2 linked regions of the Homo sapiens genome follow. The gene in region 1 interacts genetically with each later gene. Each region holds a gene or a part of one and is shown on either strand. Other genes may lie near its edges.

The links.
Region 2: changes in GAGE12D (region 1) and FLT3 together harm fitness less than expected from each alone (positive genetic interaction), as found in Homo sapiens cells (one study listed by BioGRID).

What each region holds. Positions count from the first base shown.
Region 1 is NC_000023.11:49,544,606-49,549,758, forward strand, and holds the end of GAGE12D (G antigen 12B/C/D/E), read left to right. Parts: intron 1-1,774; coding exon 1,775-1,900; intron 1,901-4,375; coding exon 4,376-4,398; 3' UTR 4,399-4,489; downstream 4,490-5,153.
Region 2 is NC_000013.11:28,097,286-28,104,569, reverse strand, and holds the start of FLT3 (receptor-type tyrosine-protein kinase FLT3 precursor), read left to right. Parts: upstream 1-3,993; 5' UTR 3,994-4,059; coding exon 4,060-4,102; intron 4,103-7,284. UniProt on the Homo sapiens protein: Tyrosine-protein kinase that acts as a cell-surface receptor for the cytokine FLT3LG and regulates differentiation, proliferation and survival of hematopoietic progenitor cells and of dendritic cells.

The sequences.
Region 1 (5,153 bases):
TCCTACCCACGTGGTAGACTTCAGATTTCTCAGCTGACGCACACTGCTGTTGGTACTCTAGGGCTGAATATAAGCATTATACATGTCCTGTGGTTTATCCTTAGATTGTCATTTAGGAGAAAGGTCTAAAGCTGGGCTGAATGCCATGCACTCATAGTCCCAGCTACTTGGGAGGCCGAGGTGAGAGGATTGCTTGAGTCCTGGAGTTCAAGCCCAGCCTGGGAAACACAGTGAGACCTCATTGCTAATAAATAAATAAATGAATAAATAAATAAACACATAAATAAATTCATTAAATAAATAAAGTTTTCATGGTATAGGAAAACACAGATGCAAAGTTTTTGTGCCTAGTGGCTGGTAATGTTGCAAACGTAACTCCTTAGTGAACTGTACCACTTAAAAATAGTTAAGATGGTAAATTTTAGGATATCTGTATTTTTTACCACAATTGGAAATTCCTTTCTTCCTAAAGTTCAGTGCAGTTATCATATATTCTTTTAAATTTTTACTGTATGTATCTTCAAGACATAACATTCATAGAAAATTTGCAAGAATAGTACAATGAACTCATATACTGTTCATCTGGATTCACCAATTGTTAGTAGCTTTCGCTTCATAGGTTTCACATCTCTTCCCTCCGTCTCTTACCGTGCTGCCCACACACTCACACACACACACACACACACACATACGGATATATGTTTACTGTTATTAATGGTGAATTGTCTCGATAAAGTTTCAGGGATTATGGTCCTTTACCCTATGTACTTGAGGGTGTGTATATCGTCAGAACAAAGAGAAAGTCATTTCTTGGATCATCACTGCACAAAGATAAAAATCAGGAAATTTAACAATGAGAAAATGGAGTCATTTAATACAGAGTGCATACTCAAATTTTGCCAGTTCCCCAGAAAATTTCTTTTTTCCTTTTTTTTTTCTTTGTTGAGACGGAGTCTCTCTCTGTGGGCCAGGTGGGAGTGCAGTAGTGCGATCTCGGCTCACTGCAACCTACACCTCCCAGGTTCTAGGGATTCTCATGCCTCAGCCTCCCGTGTAGCTGGGACTACAGGCGCCGGCCACTGCGGTCTTGAACTTCTGGCCTCACCTGCTCTGCCCACCTTGGCATCCCAAAATGTTTGGATTGCAGGCGTGAGACCCCACGCCCGGCCCAGATAATTTTATTGATAGGATTTCTTTTTCTGATCCAGAGTCCAGTTCAGAATCACACCTTGCATGTGCTTTTCAGGTGTTTTTAGTTTCCTTTAACCTGTAATGTTTCCTTAATTTTTCTTGTCATTCACGATACGGACATTTTTGGAGAGGATAGACCAGTTGGTTTGCAGAATATTCTGCAGTTTGGGCTTTTTCATGTATTTTTAAAAGAGTTTTCTCACTCAGCGTTTATTGGTGGCTACTCATGCCATGTAAGAGTCTAAGCGCTAGGAGTGTAAGTGCTGTGAGAGACGGGATTTGAGCCTTGAGTCATTTAATACGAGAAGGACAATCAGAAGTAGAATAAGAGAGAAGTGCAAAGGAGGCAGCAAAGTTGTCTGAGGGCAGTCTTCGGAAAGGAAGAGGGTATTATTTGGAACACCTTGTTTTCCTGTTTTCTGCTAATGGACTCCTGAAATAATGTTCCTGGGATTCTTATCAACACATTTATTATTACGTTAGCTAAAGCTTTTATATAATAATACCGAGAGCATGAATATTATTTTCTTATTCATACTTTATGTTTTACTGCTTAAATTGATACGTATTTTTTATTTTTAAGGGCCGAAGCCTGAAGCTCATAGCCAGGAACAGGGTCACCCACAGACTGGGTGTGAGTGTGAAGATGGTCCTGATGGGCAGGAGATGGACCCGCCAAATCCAGAGGAGGTGAAAACGCCTGAAGAAGGTAGGCAATCCATTAGGCATGCACATTGTAGGGTGTCTGTTTCCACAGTATCATATTGTAATTGTTACTATGTTTTTGAGACGGAGTCTCGCTCTGAAGACCAGGCTGGAGTGCAGTGGTGCCATTTCGGCTCACTGGAAATTCTGTCTCCAGGGTTCAAGTGATTCTCCTGCCTGAGCCTCTGGCGGAGCCGGGCTTACAGGCATGCTCCGCCGCGCCCAGCTAATTGTTGTATTTTTAGTAGAGACAGGGTTTCGTTATGTTGCACAGGTTGTTCCCGAACTCCTGACCTCAGGTGATCCACCTGCCTCGACCATTGAAATTGCCGGGATTACAGGCGAGAGCCACCGTGCCCGACCCAGCATTATATTTTTAATAACGGAGAGGTAACAATACTGCCTCTTTAGTAACAGAGTTCTTATATAAAGGTTATTTGAAACGTAGTTCAGGCCCCAGCACCCGACTGATAGACTGTCAGGTAGGGAAACAAACTGAGTCAAAGCTATGTTGAATTAAAAGTTTTGAGTGTAAATCCTTAAACCAGTAGCTCACAATTTTCAGATGCTTTTGTAAAGGTCTGCTTTTAATCAATACATAACACGTTTGTAACACCCATCACTTGGTGTGAAAAATGCTGAAGCACTCATGCGGGTTCTAATACCAGCTCTTACAGCCTTGGCGAGATTCTGAGTGAGTCCTTTCCCTTCTAAACCTATCTTTGGTTCTTATGAAAATAGTGAGTTTAAGTCAGAGATTTTAAAACCATTTTGCATTCCGTTTCTTTCATACTCTGATCCTGTTGCATAGAATGCGTGGGACACAGAGATCATCTGCTTCGCATGGTTTGTTAATCACAAATCATGAAACCCTGGCCCGAGTCATCTGAAAATCTCTGAATTGAGATTTCATTGTCAGTAAGACAGTGAGCCGGCCCTCTGCTTCATCCTAGTTTTTCCGTGTGGAGAGCTGAATACGTAGTGTAAGATCTTGTGAAATTGTGAATTCTCCCTCTTCTTGGTTTGTTTGTTTGTTTGCGACAGAGTCTCAGTGTGTCACCCAGGCTGGAGTGCAGTGATGCAATTTCAGCTCACTGCAACTTCTGGCTCCCAGGCTAAAGCCGTCCTCCCACCTCAGCCTCCCGAGTGGCTGGAACTACATGCACAAGCCACCGTGCCTGACTACATTTTTTTGTTTTCATTTTTGTAGAGATGAGGTCTCACTGTGTTGCCCAGGCAGGGTTTCTCTGGCTTTTAATGAACAATTGCTTCTTTTTTTTTCTTTTATTTATTTATTTATTTATTTATTTATTTATTTATTTATTTATCATTATACTTTAAGTTTTAGGGTACATGTGCACGTTGTGCAGGTTAGTTACATATGTATACATGTGCCATGCTGGTGCGCTGCACCCACTATCTCATCATCTAGCATTAGGTACATCTCCCAGTGCTATCCCTCCCCCCTCCCCCCACCCGACAGCAGTCCCCAGGGTGTGATATTCCCCTTCCTCTGTCCATGTGATCTCATTGTTCAGTTCCCACCTATGAGTGAGAATATGCGGTGTTTGGTTTTTTGTTCTTGCAATAGTTTACTGAGAATGATGATTTCCAGTTTCATCCATGTCCCTACAAAGGACATGAACTCATCATTTTTTAGGGCTGCATAGTATTCCATGGTGTATATGTGCCACATTTTCTTAATCCAGTCTATCGTTGTTGGACATTTGGGTTGGTTCCAAGTCTTTGCTATCGTGAATAATGCCGCAATAAACATACGTGTGCATGTGTCTTTATAGCAGCATGATTTATAGTCCTTTGGGTATATACCCAGTAATGGGATGGCTGGGTCAAATGGTACAATTGCTTCTTAAAACTTTCCCCACGGAAACCTTGAGTGACTGAAATAAATATCAAATGGCGAGAGACCGTTTAGTTCGTATCATCTGTGGCATGTAGGTCAGTGATGCTCAGCATGGGTGTGAGTAAGATGCCTGTGCTATGCATGCTCCCTGCCCCACTGTCAGTCTTCATGAGCCACTATTTCTAATAAGACTGTAGACACACATACGATATAATCATCTCTAATCATATCAAATGTTACATGTAAGTTTCACCTTTAGAGACATGAATTGATAAGATTTGAAGTTGAAAGACCATGACTCTAGTACTTCCTGAGTAATCAACTGAAGTATGCTTTACGCATGTGTTTTCCAAATTGCTGACTGTTAATTGTAAGTGCTTGTGACTTGAAAGGAAGCACTTGATGTTCAGGGAGGAAATTCCTTTTAAATTCTGCAGGTCTACGCTCAAAGTTAATGCAGAGGTTCAATTGCGTGTAAGACACGGGATCTCCCATAGGGTTCTGTTTTTAGTCCATTTAATAAAACCCAAACTGTAGTGTGCTTTGTATGCCTTTAGGGTCATCTGAATAATCTGTTGCTAAGTCATGTTCCCAATCGTTGTGTTTCTGTTACAGGTGAAAAGCAATCACAGTGTTAAAAGAAGACACGTTGAAATGATGCAGGCTGCTCCTATGTTGGAAATTTGTTCATTAAAATTCTCCCAATAAAGCTTTACAGCCTTCTGCAAAGAAGTCTTGCGCATCTTTTGTGAAGTTTATTTCTAGCTTTTTGATGCTGTGAAATATGTATCATTCTTTGAAATCGTGTATTGTAACTCTCTGAGCTGGTATGTAGAGACATCGTTCTTTTTTTTTCTTTTTTTCTTTGTCCTCTTTTGAGACGGAGTCTTGCTCTGTCGCCCAGGCTGGAGTGCAGTGGCGCGATCTCTGCTCACTGCAACCCCGCCTCCCGGATTCAAGCAATTGTCTGCCTCAGCCTCCCGAGTAGCTGGGATTATAGGCACCCACCAGCACGCCTGGCTAAGTTTTGTGTTTTTACTAGAGATGGGCTTTCGCCATCTTGGCCGGGGTGCTCTTGAACTCCTGACCTCGTGATTCACCTGCCTTGGCCTCCCAAAGTGCTGGGATTACAGGCATGAGCCTCCGTGCCCGGTGGAGACATAATTCTTACATATTGGTTTTCTATCCAGCGGCCTTGTGAAATATGCTTGTGAATTCTAAAGTTTACTTCTAGGTCGTTTTCAGTCTTCAATATACAGAAACATATCATCCTGGAATAAGAGCAGTTTTGTTTCCGCCATATTTTTTTCTTTTCCCTTTTGTATTTTTTTGTAGAGACGGGGTTTTGCCATGTTTCCCGGGCTGTTGTTGAACTTTTGAGTGCAAGTGATGC
Region 2 (7,284 bases), on another chromosome or scaffold:
TGTCAACACTTTGTATTGTCAGATTTTGCCAATTGGTGAGTTCAAAGCCCCTATTAATAAAAGATGTGTAAAATTATACTATAAAGTTGATATCTCAACTGAACTCACATGAACCCTATTCAAATATTCCTTTTGTTTGTCCCTGATTTTCAGGAAAACATAAGGCTTTGTAAGTTAAAAATGACATGAAAGTATTTCACCTGTGAGCTGCTACGAAACTATGTCACAATTTTTGGAGAGAGAGAGGAAAGGGAGAGGAGATATTTGTGTGACTTAAGGGGTGGAAACATGGTATCAAGATGCTGGTAAGATAGATGACCACTTACTCATGGCTAAGCATCATGGTGCTAAGAATCTAGATAAAATACATCCTTTCGTAGAGTTAGCACTAGACACTCCATTCAACCCAGAAACAAACTTACTCTTCTCTTTTCCGATTTCCCGTTTCAGCTCATTTCTTCTAGTTGCTTTTGACCCTTTAAGAGTTTCTTTATTACAGAATTCCTATCATGAACTCTGACACCAAAATTTCATACTTGGGCATGCATACCTGGGCGTGTAATCCAGGACTCTAGACAATTTCAGGCTACTTTCCTTAAGTGTTGCTGTGAGGAAGAAATTAGTTCTCATATTAGATATGACTCTTGGCACATCACAGAAAAACATGGGCATTACTTCACCTTCTGTTAGCCTATACCTCATACTCCAAAATATTTCAGTCTATAAGATTTGCTCCTTCTAGAATTATTTTTTCCACCAATTTCCACGGAAAATCAAGTGTTCCTAGAAACCATTCCTGGCTGGCCGCGGTGACTCACACCTGTAATCCCAGCACTTTGGGAGTCCAAGGAGGGTGGATCACGAGGTCAGGAGTTTGAGACCAGCCTGGCCAAGATGGTGAAACCCTTCTCTACTAAAAATACAAAATTAGCTGGGCGCAGTGGCGGGTGCCTGTAATCCCAGCTACTCAGGTGGCTGAGGCTGGAGAATCGCTTGAACCCGGGAGGCGGAGGTTGTAGTGAGCCTAGATCGTGCCACTGCACTCTAGCCTGGGCGACAGAGCAAGACTCTGTCTCAAAAAAAGAAACCATTCCTAACTTCTCCTCTCTCACCAACCCCCTTTTTCATGAAGATCTCTGCCTTGTGTCCAAGATTCTTGGACAAAGCAGCAGTATCTTTATGATTTTGTATCCTGAATACTGCTGCACTCAAGCTGATGTTCTGCAAATTTGTAATAATCAGTTTCATTTTTTTTTTAGTTTTTCATTTTATTTATTTATTTTTTTGAGACGGAATCTCCCTCTGTCGCCCAGGCTGGAGTGTAGTGGCGCGATCTTGGCTCACTGCAACCTCCGCTCCCCAAGTTTAAGCAATTCTCTGCCTCAGCCTCCTGAGTAGCTGGGATTACAGGCGTATGCCACCACGCCTGGCTAATTTTTTGTATTTTTAGTAGAGACAGGTTTCACCATCTTTGCCAGGCTGGTCTTGAACTCCTGACCTCGTGATCCACCTGCCTTAGCTTCCCAAAGTGCTGGGATTACAGGCATGAGCCACTACGCCCGGCGAAGACCAAGTCTTGCTCTGTTGCCCAGGCTGGAGTGCAGTGGCATGATCTCAGTTCACTGCAACATCTGCTTCCTGGGTTCAAGCAATTCCCCTGCCTCAGCCTCCCAAGTAGCTACGACTACAGTGCCACCATGCCCAGCTAATTTTTGTATTTTTGTTAGAGATGGGGTTTCACCATGTTGGTCAGGCTGGTCTCCAACTCCTGACCTCAAATGATCCACCCGCTTTGGCCTCCCAAAGCGCTGGGATTGCAGGCATGAGCCACAGCGCCCAGCCAATCAGTTTCCTTTAAGACAGTAATTGAGCTTTAAATAGAAGGTAGTGTGTTAGGTCTTGGCCATTGGAAGCTCGCTTTTCTCCCCATAACCAGCCTGTTTCATTGCTTTATCTCCTCATGTTTCACTTATTTCAGGCCATCTTCCTTCACTTCTGTTTCTGACCTAAGGTAGACACAACACTCTTTAAAAAAATTTTTAAACCCCCAGCAGCTACACAAAAACTTAAAAAATTTAAAATTGAGGTAAAATACACATACATAAAATTTACCATCTTAACTTTTTGTTTTTGTTTTTGTTTTTGAGACAGAGTCTCACTCTGTCACCCAGGCTGGAGTGCAGTGGTGTGATCTCAGCTCACTGCAGCCTCTGCCTCCCGGGTTCCAGTGATTCTCCTGCCTCAACCTCCCAGGTAGCTGGGATTACAGGCATGCGCCACTACGCCTGGCTAATTGTTGCATTTTTGTAGAGATGGGGTTTCACCATGTTGGCTAGGCTGGTCTCGAACTGCTGACCTCAGGTGATCTGCCCACCTCGGCCTCCCAAAGTGCTAGGATTACAGGCATGAGCCACCGCACCCAGCCTTAGCCATTTTTAAGTGTACAGTTTAGTAGCGTTAAGTACATTCACATTGTTGTGCAACCAGTCTCCAGAACTCTGCTCATCTTGCAAAACTGAAACTCTGTATCCATTAAACACTGGCTCCCCATTTCCCCCTGCCCCCAGCCCATGGTAACCACCATTTAACTTTCTGTCTTTATGAATTTGTAATGGGATACAGTATTGTATTTTTTGGGACTAGCTTATTTCACTTAGCATAATGTCAAGATTCATCCATATTTTAGCTGTATCAGAATTTCCCTCCTCTTTAAAGCTGAAAAATACTCAGTCGTATGTATATACTGCATTTTTGTTTATCATTCATCTGTTGTGGACATGGGTTACTTCTGCCTTTTGACTACTGTGAATAATGCTGCTTTCAACACGGGTGTACAGACATCTCTTCAAGACCCTGCTTTCAATTCTTTTGGCTACATGGCCAGAAATGGAATTGTTGGACCGTATTTTTTTTAATTTTTTGAGAAACCTCTATAGTGTTTTCCATAGTGGCTGCACCATGGTAGACACTTCTAAAGTTTCTGCCATACCCTAGGGGAAAGAATTATTGTACTGTAGACAACATCTAAGGAAAAGAACTGTATGGCCAAGAGTAAACAGTCAATTTTCATGCTTTATTAGAAAATAATTAAAATAATTAAGAGCGTGGAATTCCTAGAATTGGGAGAGACATTATGAACCATTTGGTCCATCCCTTTCCTTTACGATGAGTAAACAGAGGTTTGTGGAGGTCAAACGGCTAGTTAAGTAAGGGAAGAACCAGAACTGGCATCCAGAGCTTTCCAATCCTCAACTTATTGCAAAGAAAATAATAATAATTTTCAACTCGAAAAATTATGCGATGAAGAACAAGAACTATTGAGCGGATGATTCGCAACATCCTCTGGGATGTATTTTCTGTGTGTTTTGTTTTGAAGGCTGTTTGTTAACCTCCCTAATTGCCTTGGTTGACATTGAAACCCTGCCTGTTTTTCTTGATCCCGCCGCTGACTGGGTCCTGAGCATCCTAGGAGATGGAGGCAGAGACAAAGGAAATCAGTCCACAATTAAGAATGGAATGGTTCTTAATGGAATGCTCGCCTGTGCGCTGGCGGGAGTTGCCAGCGTGCCGAGCGGATTCAGCGCCTTTCTCAGGGCCTCAAAGATCCCAGCGCACTAGGAGGGTGGTTTGTGGCTCCCTGCAGTCCCCACGCCCCGGATCCAAACGACAGAGTTCGGGGACTCACAGGGGCAGCAAGGCGGCAGAGCCGCGGAGCCAGTGCAACTTCTCCGGCGGGACCGCGCCCAATCTTCCCCGCCGCAGTCGGGGAGCCCCGGGGGCCGCCGAGCACAGGCTGCGGACCGCGGCGGGCACGTGGGCTCGGCTGCAGCGCTGCGCCAGGCACCGGCTGCTCGGCTCTGCCCAACCTCTCCGCTCCCGCCTCGGTCCCTGCCTCTGGGGAGAGGGTTCCTCCCCCCTTCCACTTTGCACCAGTCCGAGGGAATTTGCGGTCGGTGACGCGCATCCTTAAGAGAGCCACCTGCAGCGCGAGGCGCGCCGCTCCAGGCGGCATCGCAGGGCTGGGCCGGCGCGGCCTGGGGACCCCGGGCTCCGGAGGCCATGCCGGCGTTGGCGCGCGACGGCGGCCAGCTGCCGCTGCTCGGTAAGGCCCCGCTCGCTCGCTCGCAGCCCCTCGCGGTCCCTCAGCCCCCACCCCGCAGTGTGGACCCGGGCGCGCGCCTCCTCCGGCCCAGCCGCCTCGCTCCTCCCCGCGCTCGCTCCTTCCATTGCCTCCCGCGCCCCTCCCCTCTTTCGCGCCCTCCGGACTCGCCCACTACTTGCCTGCGGCCCCGGCGTTTCCCACCCCGCGTCCTCTTCCCTCTTCTCCGAAGTCTCTCCTCTGGCTCGGGCCGCGGTCCCGAGTGGCGGCCCGGACTTCGCAGACGGCCTCGCCGAGGCGCTGCGCCGGGTCTGGGGCAGCTCGGCCCGCGCGCTCGGGTGCTGGGCCGTCCGTGGGAGTCTGCGGCCGCGAACTCGGCGCCAGGTGGCCAAGGACCTCTCCTGGCCCGGCCCTTGGATACTGTAGACACCTGGGTGTCGTCTTTAACTCTTCTTTTGAGGTTTTGATTTATGGAGGGAACTCTGATGGGAAAATGCGTCCGCGTTCTCCCCTAGAGCGAGTCATCCTCAATAACGATACCCCCCAGCCCCGCCGAATTTTGGTTGGATCAACGAATAGTTTACCTAGGAAATATTATGCAAACAGATTTACATATTAAAATACTAGCTGTCCCTTTCTTCTAGTCTCTTCTTATCCTGGCATAAACCCCAAAGGGGTTTTCAAGGACTCCGAGGACTGTCCCCAAAGAATCTGCTGGGTAGCATAGTTGTTATTGAAAAAAAAAATCTTCCCATCGGTTCGCGTCAGCTTTCTATTTGGAAAGATGAGAGGACTGAATCGAATTTGGGTTGAAGGCGACAGAGTTCTGGGTGCCCGGCAGCTCCGGTCCCTGTCCTAGGTCTGCAACCTTGGGACTGACACTCACCTCCCCCGGCCTCCGCGTCCTCATCTGTGCAGTGAGGGAGTCCGTCCGAGTCCCCTTCAGCTCTGAAATGCTAGGACTTGAAGTCTCTGTGGTAAATAGAGAAAATGCTTGCAATATAGAAGTGCAGGAATTATATCCAATAGCTTTTGTTACAAATAATTCTGAAATATAAAAAGTAAAAAATGGAAATCGGGGGAAAAGAGTTGAAAAACAAAGACATTTTAGTTCTTAAATAGTTATCTTTACTAGTTAGTAAATCTGTAATTTCAAATGTGTAGTACAATATGTTTTCCAGATTCCGTTAATACAAAATGTTAGCTTTCTATTATGTATGATATTAAGTAGTAAGTGCATTTTTCAGAAGCATAATGGGCTTTCTAAAGGTATAAGCATCAATACTTGCAACGATATTTAAGCTGCATGGAATTCTTTTCTATTTAGGAAAGAATTCAGAAATTTCTATGTCTCTCTCTCCAGATATTTCTAAATGAAGTATAATTGGCACACAGTAAATATGCACACATCTTAAGAGTACAATTTCATTAGTTTTCACATATGTACGTGCCCAAATAACCACGATCAGACTGAGATATAGAGCAATTCTAGCTCCACCCTCTCTGTCAGTACCCCCTCCCCAGGTAGCCACTATTCTGACTTCTGATGCCATGGATTGCTTTTGCCTATGTTTGAACTTCATGTAAACCAAACCATCATCGTGTGCTCTTTTATGTCCACCTTCTTTTACTCAACATTATAATAATAAGATTCAACCTTGTTCTCTGTAGCAGTGTTTTTTTTTTTAATTGCTGGTACCATTCCGTGGTATGAATAGATCTTATAATTTATTTTATCCATTATGTTCACGAAGCACATGGAAGTTGTTCCAATTTTGTGTAATTATGCATAGCACTGCTGTGAACATTGTTTTATATATGGTGGACATAAACACCAGTATAAAGGATTATGCCCACAAGTAGAATTCCTGGATCATAGGGAAGGGATATGTTCAGGTTTGGTAGATACCGTCAAACGGTTTTCCACAGTGGTTACACCAATTTCCACTCCCACTAGCAGTGTATGGCAGTTCCAGTTCCTCACATCTTTGCCAATACTTTGTATTATGGATTTTCTTGAATAAAGAAGGATAAAGTGAGAAGCTTAAACATGAGAACTTTAAAATGGTTAATAGCCTTAAATTCTTTGAATTAGAACATGGGATCCCAATTTCCCTTATATTGTAAACACTACTTTTTTTTTTTTTTTTTTTTTTGAGACGGAGTCTTGCTCTGTCACCCAGGCTGGAGTGTAGTGGCGCGATCTCAGCTCACTGCAACCTCCGCCTCCCAGGTTCAAGCGATTCTCCTGCCTCAGCCTCCTGAGTAGCTGGGATTACAGGTGCGTGCCACCGCACCCAGCTAATTTTTGTATTTTTAGTAGAGACGAGGTTTCACCATGTTGGCCAGGCTGGTCTCGAACTCCTGACCTTAGGCGATCCACCCACCTCAGCCTCCCAAAGCGCTGGGATTACAGGTATGAGCCACCACACCCGGCCATGCCCAGACTTCTATTCATCATTTATGAATAATGATGAAGCTTTCTAAGTGGCATTTGAAGGAGAGGAACATGTTCCCAATGGGCTTTTCTGCATTATCTGCTGATACTGGACAGAGAGAAGTATTTCAATATTTTAAGAGCTATGATACTACCTTTTTCATTAGTGTTAAAAAAAATTCGTATTCAAAGCCTTGAACTGCACATTTGAGTTGCCATTCTTTGCTCTTGTTGCTTATCTTAGTTTATTTGCCTTCTTGGAAACTCCTAGCCCAAGGGGGAATGATTCAGGAGAAAGTGGAGGGAAGGGACACTCAGCAAAGCTTGGTTTGGATTGGATGTGAGCCCAGACCTGCCGACCTGACATTAATGTCCCCTCTGACTCTGAAACTCTAGTTCTAATTTTTGCCATTATATAGGTGTAGATTGGATATTCATTTCTTTTTAGGTACTTCACGTCTATCTATAGTAAATTATCCTCTTAGGTTTAATTGTGAACTTCTTGCCTTACATTAAAAATGGATTAACTTTTTATAACTAAGAAGGCACTTTCAGTAACTCTTAGCTATTGGTAAATATTTGTTATTGGATTCTCCTGTTGTTTAAACTGAAAAACAATCAGGCAATGAGATATTAAATGGGAAGGAGGAAGACTTACTTATATTCCAAGGGAAGACTTCAGATAAGAAAAATGAAGAGAAAACATGCATTAGGAAGAAAAAATCTGTTTTTATTTAACAAACTTTAA